3 linked regions of the Homo sapiens genome follow. The protein of the gene in region 3 interacts with the protein of the main gene of each other region in a pairwise test. Each region holds a gene or a part of one and is shown on either strand. Other genes may lie near its edges.

Region 1 (4,145 bases), on a different chromosome or scaffold from region 3:
GAAAAGATGGGAACTAACTCAACTTAAACATCTAAGAGACACCTACAGCCAACATCTTGGTTAATGGTGAAACATTCAAAATATTCCCATTAAAGCCAGGAGGAAGCCAAGGACACTGCCGTCAAATTACTGATTCCTGGTTTAGCGGTTCCAGTGAGTCATGCACTCTCCTTGCTTCCGTTAACCGCCCCCCCCCCCACCCCAACACCTTTTGTCTGATTCGTCACATGTCCTTTGATCCCCTTTTTCCTCAATCTGTTTGAAATTTTACCTTCTATTCCAATTCATTTAGTGGTTCCCAAAGGGTACCCACGTTGAGACTTAAAAATGTGTCAGTCTAGATTTTTATTGCTCTTATATTCAGCCAGTCTATCGTCTCCAGGCACTAGAGAAGCACTTTAGTAACTTCTAGCTCCTTCTGAGTTTTCGCATGTCCCACATGTCTATATGAGTGTCTTCTGGAATTTTAATTCTAGGTCATCAATCCTTTTTCCAGAATCGTACTTCTCTGGACTTAAGAATACAGTTTCCTAATTTCCATGCTTAGTGATCCTTGTTGCATCCCACTTCTTCCAGGTTGTCTGGGTTGGCTTCTTCTTGGCTGAAAAACGTGACGTGTACTTTCACTGTACATGACAGTTCCATTCCAATCGCCTTGTACAGAAAGGGTGTTTGGCAGCTTGCATGTTGTAAGTTGCGTACTCCAAGTTCAGGGGAAGCTCAGGCTTCAGGTCCAGTCGGGGGAGGAGTGGAGCAGAAGTGGGGCTGGGGGGAACGTCCAGGTGGAAGGAAGGGAGGCTGGGAACAACGTGGGTGGCAGATAGTGGTCAATACGCAATGTCGGTGAGGAACACTGGGACCCCTTGCACGTAGGTGCCCTGGGGGGTTTGAATGACTTGTAAAACCGCTGAGTCACCCAGAGCCCTAAACCCGATGCAGGGATAGAGGGTCAAGACGGGTTGCCAGTCAACAGCCTGAGGCCCAGGAGCAGCGGGCGGCTCCTGAAACCCCAGCTCAGGTTGCGCCACGTCGGGGCCAGGGCCTTCCTGCACAGTTCCAGGCGGAGGACCTGTTTCAGAAAGGGAGAAGGCTGCGGTCTCCGTGATTTCCGGTTCCCCCTGGTGGCCTGGCTCTCCATGGTGGTCCAGTTGGATGTGCACGTCCGGTGCCATCAAGCCTTCTGCCCCCTGTCTCTGGCCAGCGTCCCCGCGGGGCCCAGCCCTTCTGCCACGGCCTCGCCCTGGCCGCCGGCTTCCTCCCCGGCGCCGGCCTCTCTCTGCAGGAGGGGGTGACTCTGGGCGAGCTGGGGGCTGCCGTCTGAAGGGTTTCACGTAAGCGATGGGTTTTGCGGGTTGGGCTGGCTGTGCGGGCCCATCTGCTTCCACGGAGCCTTCAGGGTCCGCAACACAGCAGCCTGGCTCTGGAGGAGGCCCACCTGAGGCTAAAAGAGAAGCGGAGCGTGAGCAGAGAGAGACAGAAGGAACTTCACCCGTCAAGCAGTTATAGGATACTTTTACAAATAAATACTCAGAGAAAAGAGGGATTTCTGAAGTTAAAATTGTGAGAGAAGAAACAAAACTCTCCACGGAAGTTGGAGAATGAAGTTGAGAAGGTCTCCCACAGAACAAAGCAAAAACCTAAAATGATGGAAAGAAGGATGAAATATAAGAGAATTAGAGGTATGCTGTGGCTGAGACATTTCACCAGAAAATTTCAGAGTGCTGAGGAAAAAGAGAAGATTCTAACAGATTCTAGAGAGCGGGAGACAGAGAAAGGAAAAGTCACATGGAAAGGGCTAGGATTCCACATGTCTCAAAAGTCAGACATCTCAAAAGCAGCAGTTCAGTCTAGAACATAACAGAAAATGTCTTCGAAATTTCAAGGGAAATGAATTTCCCACCTAAAATTTCCTGTCCAACCGAAGTTTCGCTGAAGAATCTGGGAGGGGAGAATGAAGATGTTTCAGACAAGCAAGATGTTAAAGAATTTCCTTTCAGTGGATGCTTTATTGTTATGCATCTGTCAAACTAGACAAGATTAAAAGATTTAGGACACTCAGCGTATGAAGGGAAAAGTTTTGGAGAACAACGTGGCAACAGCCGGAAAATTCCAACTCCTCCGGGAAAGAACAAGGTGGAAGTACCGGTTTATCATAGATCAAGACGTAGCGTGAGGACTCGCTCTGCTACGGAGAAACAGTAATACAAAACTAAACAGAAGGAAACAGCGACAACAACAGCAAATCTCAGATTTGGGAAATGGGATTACGGTTCGGAAGAGGGAAAGGAATTTCCCAGATGATGTGGAACCCGGGAGCTGACTTCCAACAAGCAGCCCAGGTTGAGGCAGGCTAGGAGAAGGTGAAACAGAGAATGCTTGATTGAGTTTGAGTGTCAACCATTGGGGAAGAATTGGGGAACAGACGAAATTAAAAAGAGAGGAGTGGCAGGCGTTTGATGTACCTTGATTAGGGGCCATGGAGCGAAGTCGCTTCGAAGGCCTTGGTTCCTCCATGAGCAATCGGCGGGAGGGGCTGGGGAGAAAAACAAGAGAGCAAGAACGGATTTAGGAAGACAGAGGTGACAAGGCAGGGGGATGGCCGTGGCCTTTCTAGGGGAATGAGGATTCTGTCCCCAACTGCACCCACCCGAGATCCGTCCACGCCTCCGGGACCCCCAGACACACACCTGATCTTCCCACAGCTGGCTCCGGAGATCTGAAAATTAGGAGACTCTTCGACGAAGAGAGGCCCGAGGAGTCGGAGGTGTCCACAGGTTCACCGCTGTAGCTCTGAGGTAGTCCACCCGCAGCCAGGGAGTCTGGAGGGAGCACGCAGCAGGTTCTGGCTCCGAGCCCAGCAGAAAGCCGACTGCTGGAGGCCGAGCGCCGTCCCTCTTATATGGCAGCAAGGCAGTCGCGTAAGGGACAGGCGTCGTCAGAGGGGGGCCGGCTGGGGCGGGCCTGGCTGGGCTTGCGAGGCGCATTGGGCCAGTCCCCTGCCAGTCAAATGGGGGCCCTTCTGAGATGCCGCCATTTCTAGACGTCCGTGGTTGATTGATTAATCTAATCATCGAGGAAAAAAAATTGCATAATGACCTCTGAGTGTCAGCACAATGAGGTGTGGTGCCCTGAAAGCGGCTGACAGGAAGATGCGATTAGCTTAGATCTGAGCATGGTCAAGGAAAGCATCCAAAGCGGGGATATCTGGGCTGAAATCTGGAACATAACGTTTGAAATTAGTCATCCTGAACCGGGTTGGGAGAGGCAGGGAGGGAGGAAGGGGAGTGAAGAGAGTGTGCTGAGGCCCGGACTGGAAGGGAGCCCGGCACATTCTGGGAATGGACGGGAGGCCAAGTCCAGGCCCGGAGGTGGTGCGAGGTGGAGGCAGGGTCCGCGCAGGAGCTGGTCTTGTTCCAAGGCAGCGGAAAACCGTGGAACGGTGTCCGGCAGCGGGTTAACATTTCAGAAACGACCAGCCTGGCTGTGAAGGAGCGCCAACCCAGGGTCCGCAGAATAAGTCAGGAGAGGCAAGAAGGCTATTGCAGCCCTCGGGGTTGGGCGCAGGGTGCTGTTAGACTGAGACTCAGGGAGGTAGAGGAGGAGAAAGTTCCCTGGTGGGAGAGAAATTTCCAAGAGAAAGCGAGACCCAGTGTGGACAGCCCTTGAGGAAGAGACTGCGGCCTTGGTAGCCCGCCGGTTCATTCAGGCAGAGGTGGACCGAGAACCTGCTCTGAACGGGAAGTTGCGGAGCTTGGCTTGCGCACATCTGGTTGAAGGGGCTTTTGAACTGCCAAGTGAGGATGTCAAGTGGCCTTTTGTAAAAAGAGTCGAGCTCAGCGCGATGGCGACGGGGCTGGAGATGCGTGTGAGACCCACACCGCTGGCTTTTATTGCTGTGGGTGCACTCACGGGTGGAGGAAGACAGCGGGAAACACAGCAGGACGCTGGAGGGGATCCCACAGTGGGTTATTTGGTTGGTTTGCATCCTTGTGTCTTTTACAGAGACGGGTTCTCGCTCTGTAGCCCAGGCTGGAGTGCAGCGGTGCCATCTCGGCTCGCTGCGGCTACTTGGGGGGGGGGGGGGGGGGGGCGGGGCGGGCTGAGATAGGAGAATCAGTTCAAGTGATTCTCCTGTCTCGGCCTCC
Region 2 (4,418 bases), on a different chromosome or scaffold from region 3:
GTATGTGAGGTGAAAGCATAGCAAAACCTCACTTCAACAGGAAATACAACCCAAAAAAATAATTGGCCGGGCATGGTGGCTTGCGCCTGGGGTCCCAGCGACTCGGGAGGTTGAGCGGGACGGACGGCTTGAGCTCAGGCCTTCCAAACAAGCCTGGGCACATAGCGAAACCTCGTCTCTCCAAAAAAATCCGAAAATTATCCCGATGTGGTGGCGCTCACCTGTAGTCCAGCTACTCCGGAGGCCGAGACAGGAGAATCACTTGAACTGATTCTCCTATCTCAGCCCCCCCCCCCCCCCCGCCCCACCCCAAGTAGCCGCAGCGAGCCGAGATGGCACCGCTGCACTCCAGCCTGGGCTACAGAGCGAGAACCCGTCTCTGTAAAAGACACAAGGATGCAAACCAACCAAATAACCCACTGTGGGATCCCCTCCAGCGTCCTGCTGTGTTTCCCGCTGTCTTCCTCCACCCGTGAGTGCACCCACAGCAATAAAAGCCAGCGGTGTGGGTCTCACACGCATCTCCAGCCCCGTCGCCATCGCGCTGAGCTCGACTCTTTTTACAAAAGGCCACTTGACATCCTCACTTGGCAGTTCAAAAGCCCCTTCAACCAGATGTGCGCAAGCCAAGCTCCGCAACTTCCCGTTCAGAGCAGGTTCTCGGTCCACCTCTGCCTGAATGAACCGGCGGGCTACCAAGGCCGCAGTCTCTTCCTCAAGGGCTGTCCACACTGGGTCTCGCTTTCTCTTGGAAATTTCTCTCCCACCAGGGAACTTTCTCCTCCTCTACCTCCCTGAGTCTCAGTCTAACAGCACCCTGCGCCCAACCCCGAGGGCTGCAATAGCCTTCTTGCCTCTCCTGACTTATTCTGCGGACCCTGGGTTGGCGCTCCTTCACAGCCAGGCTGGTCGTTTCTGAAATGTTAACCCGCTGCCGGACACCGTTCCACGGTTTTCCGCTGCCTTGGAACAAGACCAGCTCCTGCGCGGACCCTGCCTCCACCTCGCACCACCTCCGGGCCTGGACTTGGCCTCCCGTCCATTCCCAGAATGTGCCGGGCTCCCTTCCAGTCCGGGCCTCAGCACACTCTCTTCACTCCCCTTCCTCCCTCCCTGCCTCTCCCAACCCGGTTCAGGATGACTAATTTCAAACGTTATGTTCCAGATTTCAGCCCAGATATCCCCGCTTTGGATGCTTTCCTTGACCATGCTCAGATCTAAGCTAATCGCATCTTCCTGTCAGCCGCTTTCAGGGCACCACACCTCATTGTGCTGACACTCAGAGGTCATTATGCAATTTTTTTTCCTCGATGATTAGATTAATCAATCAACCACGGACGTCTAGAAATGGCGGCATCTCAGAAGGGCCCCCATTTGACTGGCAGGGGACTGGCCCAATGCGCCTCGCAAGCCCAGCCAGGCCCGCCCCAGCCGGCCCCCCTCTGACGACGCCTGTCCCTTACGCGACTGCCTTGCTGCCATATAAGAGGGACGGCGCTCGGCCTCCAGCAGTCGGCTTTCTGCTGGGCTCGGAGCCAGAACCTGCTGCGTGCTCCCTCCAGACTCCCTGGCTGCGGGTGGACTACCTCAGAGCTACAGCGGTGAACCTGTGGACACCTCCGACTCCTCGGGCCTCTCTTCGTCGAAGAGTCTCCTAATTTTCAGATCTCCGGAGCCAGCTGTGGGAAGATCAGGTGTGTGTCTGGGGGTCCCGGAGGCGTGGACGGATCTCGGGTGGGTGCAGTTGGGGACAGAATCCTCATTCCCCTAGAAAGGCCACGGCCATCCCCCTGCCTTGTCACCTCTGTCTTCCTAAATCCGTTCTTGCTCTCTTGTTTTTCTCCCCAGCCCCTCCCGCCGATTGCTCATGGAGGAACCAAGGCCTTCGAAGCGACTTCGCTCCATGGCCCCTAATCAAGGTACATCAAACGCCTGCCACTCCTCTCTTTTTAATTTCGTCTGTTCCCCAATTCTTCCCCAATGGTTGACACTCAAACTCAATCAAGCATTCTCTGTTTCACCTTCTCCTAGCCTGCCTCAACCTGGGCTGCTTGTTGGAAGTCAGCTCCCGGGTTCCACATCATCTGGGAAATTCCTTTCCCTCTTCCGAACCGTAATCCCATTTCCCAAATCTGAGATTTGCTGTTGTTGTCGCTGTTTCCTTCTGTTTAGTTTTGTATTACTGTTTCTCCGTAGCAGAGCGAGTCCTCACGCTACGTCTTGATCTATGATAAACCGGTACTTCCACCTTGTTCTTTCCCGGAGGAGTTGGAATTTTCCGGCTGTTGCCACGTTGTTCTCCAAAACATTTCCCTTCATACGCTGAGTGTCCTAAATCTTTTAATCTTGTCTAGTTTGACAGATGCATAACAATAAAGCATCCACTGAAAGGAAATTCTTTAACATCTTGCTTGTCTGAAACATCTTCATTCTCCCCTCCCAGATTCTTCAGCGAAACTTCGGTTGGACAGGAAATTTTAGGTGGGAAATTCATTTCCCTTGAAATTTCGAAGACATTTTCTGTTATGTTCTAGACTGAACTGCTGCTTTTGAGATGTCTGACTTTTGAGACATGTGGAATCCTAGCCCTTTCCATGTGACTTTTCCTTTCTCTGTCTCCCGCTCTCTAGAATCTGTTAGAATCTTCTCTTTTTCCTCAGCACTCTGAAATTTTCTGGTGAAATGTCTCAGCCACAGCATACCTCTAATTCTCTTATATTTCATCCTTCTTTCCATCATTTTAGGTTTTTGCTTTGTTCTGTGGGAGACCTTCTCAACTTCATTCTCCAACTTCCGTGGAGAGTTTTGTTTCTTCTCTCACAATTTTAACTTCAGAAATCCCTCTTTTCTCTGAGTATTTATTTGTAAAAGTATCCTATAACTGCTTGACGGGTGAAGTTCCTTCTGTCTCTCTCTGCTCACGCTCCGCTTCTCTTTTAGCCTCAGGTGGGCCTCCTCCAGAGCCAGGCTGCTGTGTTGCGGACCCTGAAGGCTCCGTGGAAGCAGATGGGCCCGCACAGCCAGCCCAACCCGCAAAACCCATCGCTTACGTGAAACCCTTCAGACGGCAGCCCCCAGCTCGCCCAGAGTCACCCCCTCCTGCAGAGAGAGGCCGGCGCCGGGGAGGAAGCCGGCGGCCAGGGCGAGGCCGTGGCAGAAGGGCTGGGCCCCGCGGGGACGCTGGCCAGAGACAGGGGGCAGAAGGCTTGATGGCACCGGACGTGCACATCCAACTGGACCACCATGGAGAGCCAGGCCACCAGGGGGAACCGGAAATCACGGAGACCGCAGCCTTCTCCCTTTCTGAAACAGGTCCTCCGCCTGGAACTGTGCAGGAAGGCCCTGGCCCCGACGTGGCGCAACCTGAGCTGGGGTTTCAGGAGCCGCCCGCTGCTCCTGGGCCTCAGGCTGTTGACTGGCAACCCGTCTTGACCCTCTATCCCTGCATCGGGTTTAGGGCTCTGGGTGACTCAGCGGTTTTACAAGTCATTCAAACCCCCCAGGGCACCTACGTGCAAGGGGTCCCAGTGTTCCTCACCGACATTGCGTATTGACCACTATCTGCCACCCACGTTGTTCCCAGCCTCCCTTCCTTCCACCTGGACGTTCCCCCCAGCCCCACTTCTGCTCCACTCCTCCCCCGACTGGACCTGAAGCCTGAGCTTCCCCTGAACTTGGAGTACGCAACTTACAACATGCAAGCTGCCAAACACCCTTTCTGTACAAGGCGATTGGAATGGAACTGTCATGTACAGTGAAAGTACACGTCACGTTTTTCAGCCAAGAAGAAGCCAACCCAGACAACCTGGAAGAAGTGGGATGCAACAAGGATCACTAAGCATGGAAATTAGGAAACTGTATTCTTAAGTCCAGAGAAGTACGATTCTGGAAAAAGGATTGATGACCTAGAATTAAAATTCCAGAAGACACTCATATAGACATGTGGGACATGCGAAAACTCAGAAGGAGCTAGAAGTTACTAAAGTGCTTCTCTAGTGCCTGGAGACGATAGACTGGCTGAATATAAGAGCAATAAAAATCTAGACTGACACATTTTTAAGTCTCAACGTGGGTACCCTTTGGGAACCACTAAATGAATTGGAATAGAAGGTAAAATTTCAAACAGATTGAGGAAAAAGGGGATCAAAGGACATGTGACGAATCAGACAAAAGGTGTTGGGGTGGGGGGGGGGGCGGTTAACGGAAGCAAGGAGAGTGCATGACTCACTGGAACCGCTAAACCAGGAATCAGTAATTTGACGGCAGTGTCCTTGGCTTCCTCCTGGCTTTAATGGGAATATTTTGAATGTTTCACCATTAACCAAGATGTTGGCTGTAGGTGTCTCTTAGATGTTTAAGTTGAGTTAGTTCCCATCTTTTCAGAGTTTGATAAATGTTGTATTATGAACTTTTGTATT
Region 3 (3,644 bases):
TGGGTCTGTTTCACCGCCAGGTCTGCGGCCGCCTGGGCGGCTCCAGCCACGGGACTCGAGGTAGGTGGATCCCAGGGCCATTCCCATCCCTTCCATCCCCCACCCCAACCTCAGCAGGGCATCCCTGACTCTCCCTCAGTGCAAAGAAGGAGAAACCTCCAAGGGAAACGCCCCAGTTCTTGGTCTCGACTCTGTACAAACTCCAAGTGGCCAGAGCCTGGGTGTTGGGGGGAAGAGCTCCAAGCTGCCTCAAATACCAGAAGCAGGGAGCTAAGGGTGTGGGAATGGCAGCAAGGGCATTCTGCATGTTGCAGGAGGGCTGCGGTGGGATCCTGGGGAGTGGGACAGAGATTACCCTGCCCTTTTTTACCCCATACTCTATCTGTAACCCGTCACCCAGGCTGGAGTGCAGTGGTGCGATCACAGCTCACTGCACCCTCGACCTCCTGGCCTCAAGCGATCCTCCCGCCTTGGCCTCTCAACACACTGGGACTACAGGCACACGCATCACCATGCCTGGCCCGGTTCACTTCTCTTTACCACCTGGATTGGCAGAACAGCCACCTCACTGGTCTCCCTGCCTCTACTTCCCCACTTCCTCTCCCTCCCAGTCCCATCTTCACACAGCCAGAGGGAGACTATTAAAAGGGCAACTCTCCAGCCTGGGCAACTCCATCTCTACAAAAAATACAAAAATTAGCTGGGTGTGGTGGTGCACACCTATAGTCCCAGCTACTCAGGAGGCTGAGGTGGGAGGATAGCTTGAACCTGGGAGGTCGAGGCTGCAGTGAGCCGTGATCACACCACCACACTCCAGCCTAGGGGACAGAATAAGACCCTGTCTCTAAATAAATAAATAAATAAATAAATAAAAATAAAGGCAAATCTGATCAAGTCATGCTCTGGGATAAAAGCTCTAAAGGCTTCACCCTTTGCTTTAGGAGAATGCTTGCCCCAGCCTGGAAGATCCGGGCCTTTCCCCTCCCCCAAGCCCTTCTCTCCCAGTCCACCCCTTCCACCTGATTCCTCCCACAGATCAACTGAGATATAAATACAACTCTCCACCTAAAAATATTACGGGTAGAAGTAACACTGAGGATGGCTAGAAATGGATATAAGAAAACTCATTATTGACTAAAATGCACAAAAGAATCAAATCTTGACCACGAATCTTTTTTTTTGGTTTTAATTTAAATCTTCCAAAATGGAATGGGGTTACCCAGTCAATCACACAATGGCAGAAACTCGTGTCAAGAGCCTGCAGCCCCCACACTGATGGATGCCTCCAATCTCAGCAGCAGAATGTGTACGGAATCGATGCCGATGAAAACAGTTTCAGTAAAATTACAAAAGAATGAAAAACATGGACATTTGTTTAACTGTACTACAGGGGAAAAACAAAAATCTGATCAAAGAATTAAGTTGGATGAATAGAGTTCAAGCTGGAGAACACCTTCTTAAAACATTTTCAGGGTTAGTATGTTTTGGTTTAAAATGTTTGCATTCAAAACATCCTTCGGGTCAAAATATCCGTAGTGGTTAAAATATCCTGTGTCCCTCTGATCTGTTTCCTATAACTCCCCACCTTCCAGCCACACTGGGCTCTTTCTGTCCCTGGAGCACAGCGAGTTTCCCCTCACTTGGGAGCTTTCTCAAAGCCTGTTCTCTCTGCCTTGAGTGCTCTTTTCCTTCTGACCCCTCCCTCCTCCTTCTCATGGCTGATATTTAACTATCACCTCTGAAAGACGCCTTCCTGCATTGCTCTCTCTAGGGTAGTTTTCCTTCCTTCCCATTTCCTCTTATTCCCTTTTTTTTTTTTTTTTTTTTTTTTTTTGAGATGGAGTCTCGTTCTGTCGCCCAGGCTGGAGTGCAATTGCGCGATCTCGGCTCACTGCAACCTCCACCTCCCAGGTTCAAGCGATTCTCCTGCTTCAGCCTCCCGAGTAGCTGGGATTACAGGCTTGCGCCATCACGCACTAATTTTTGTATTTTTAATTAGTGATGGGTTTTCACCATGTTGGCCAGGCTGGTCTCGAACTCCTGACCCCAAGTGATCCACCCACCTTGGTCTCCCAAAGTGCTGGGATTACAGACGTGAGCCACCACACCCAGCCTCTTATTCCCTCTTGAGAACCTATCTTAGGCTGGGCACGGTGGCTCACGCCTGTAATCCCAGCACTTTGGGAAGCAGAGGCGGGCGGATCACGAGGTCAGGAGATCGAGACCATGGTGAAACCCCATCTCTACTAAAAATACAAAAAATTAGCTGGGCACAGTGGTGGGCACCTGTAGTCCCAGCTACTCGGGAGGCTGAGGCAGGAGAATGGCGTGAACCCGGAAGGCGGAGCTTGCAGTGAGCCGAGATCCTGCCACTGCACTCCAGCCTGGGCGACAGAGCGAGACTCCGTCTCAAAAAAAAGAGAACCTATCTTGTTCCCTCTTGGAACCCTGTCTTGTTCCTCCTGAATTCCCAGGGCAGAGGCTAGCAAGTATAACACATAGTAGGTGCTCCATAAATATTGGTTAAATGAATGAGTAAATCAGTGTCACTGGGATGAGAGCTAGGACAGTAGGCTGGGGCTTGGGGGTAGGGGCTGGGACAGGGTAGAGACACACCCACTTATGACATCAAGTTCCAAGGAAGCCCATTTCAGTGGGAGAACAAAGAGAAGACTGGCTGCGCATGGTGGCATTACAGGCATGAGCCTGTAATCCTAGCACTTTGGGAGGCTGAGGCAGGAGGATCGCTTGAGCCCAGGAGTTTGAAACCAATCTGGGCAACAGAGGGAGACCCCTGTCTCTACAGAAAATGTAACAAAATTATCCAGGTGTGTGCCTGTAGTCCCAGCTATTCGTGAGGCTCTGGACTGAGGGCTGGGGTGGGAGGATTGCTTGGGCCTGGGAGGCGGAGGCTGCGGTGAGCTGTTATCGCACCACTGTACTCCAGCCTGGGTGGCAGAGCGAGACTTCATCTCAAACAAAAAAGAAAAGAGGATACAAAACCAGTCCTGCTCCTGATTTTTGCCCTATGCCCAGCTTCCCAAGGGTCAGGCCCATGTGCCAAATGGACAGCTCCCCCTCCACCCCTTCATCTAGGCCACCTTCTTGGGGCTTGGCTCCCACGTGTGGCTTCAGGCCAGGCTATTTGGGGAAACTTCCTGATCCCCCCTCTGGCCTCTCCACCCCCACACCTCATCTTGCAGACCCAGAATAGCTGTCCCCAGTCTCAACCTAGGGAGAGTCTCATTCCCAATTAGCACCCAGAGGGTTGAAACCATCTCTAAAAGCTTCTTGTGTCCCTCTCCCCTCAGGAAGCTGCTAACTAGGACAGCAAATTTCAGAATAAGGTCACAAGAATGCTACCTGCCCCTATATTCACCTCCCAGCCAGAGACTCAGGGACCAGGAGTCTTGGTGTGTGAAGGTAGAGGAGCTTTGGGTGAGGGGGAGATTCAGGAAGAGCCAGGGGTGACTGCAGCCTGTGACTCTTTTAATCAAAGGAGCAGCTCCAGCATGGTCTGGCAAGGAGCCCTGGCTGTGAGGGGTGAGGAGACCCAGGTTCCAGTCCAGGTTCTGCTAGAAGATTGATTCTGCGAAAGTTCCTTTGCTCTCTGAGCTTTCATCATCTACAAAAAGAACTTTGAT

The links.
Region 1: the proteins of ZNF385C (region 3) and PRR20C interact in a two-hybrid assay, tested with the Homo sapiens proteins (one large-scale study listed by BioGRID).
Region 2: the proteins of ZNF385C (region 3) and PRR20B interact in a two-hybrid assay, tested with the Homo sapiens proteins (one large-scale study listed by BioGRID).

The regions. Positions count from the first base shown.
Region 1 is NC_000013.11:57,152,817-57,156,961, reverse strand, and holds the start of PRR20C (proline-rich protein 20C), read right to left. Parts: upstream 2,902-4,145; 5' UTR 2,688-2,901; intron 2,534-2,687; 5' UTR 2,515-2,533; coding exon 2,463-2,514; intron 1,442-2,462; coding exon 828-1,441; 3' UTR 1-827.
Region 2 is NC_000013.11:57,146,008-57,150,425, forward strand, and holds the start of PRR20B (proline-rich protein 20B), read left to right. Parts: upstream 1-1,480; 5' UTR 1,481-1,694; intron 1,695-1,848; 5' UTR 1,849-1,867; coding exon 1,868-1,919; intron 1,920-2,940; coding exon 2,941-3,554; 3' UTR 3,555-4,418.
Region 3 is NC_000017.11:42,088,471-42,092,114, forward strand, and holds part of ZNF385C (zinc finger protein 385C), read right to left. Parts: intron 1-3,644.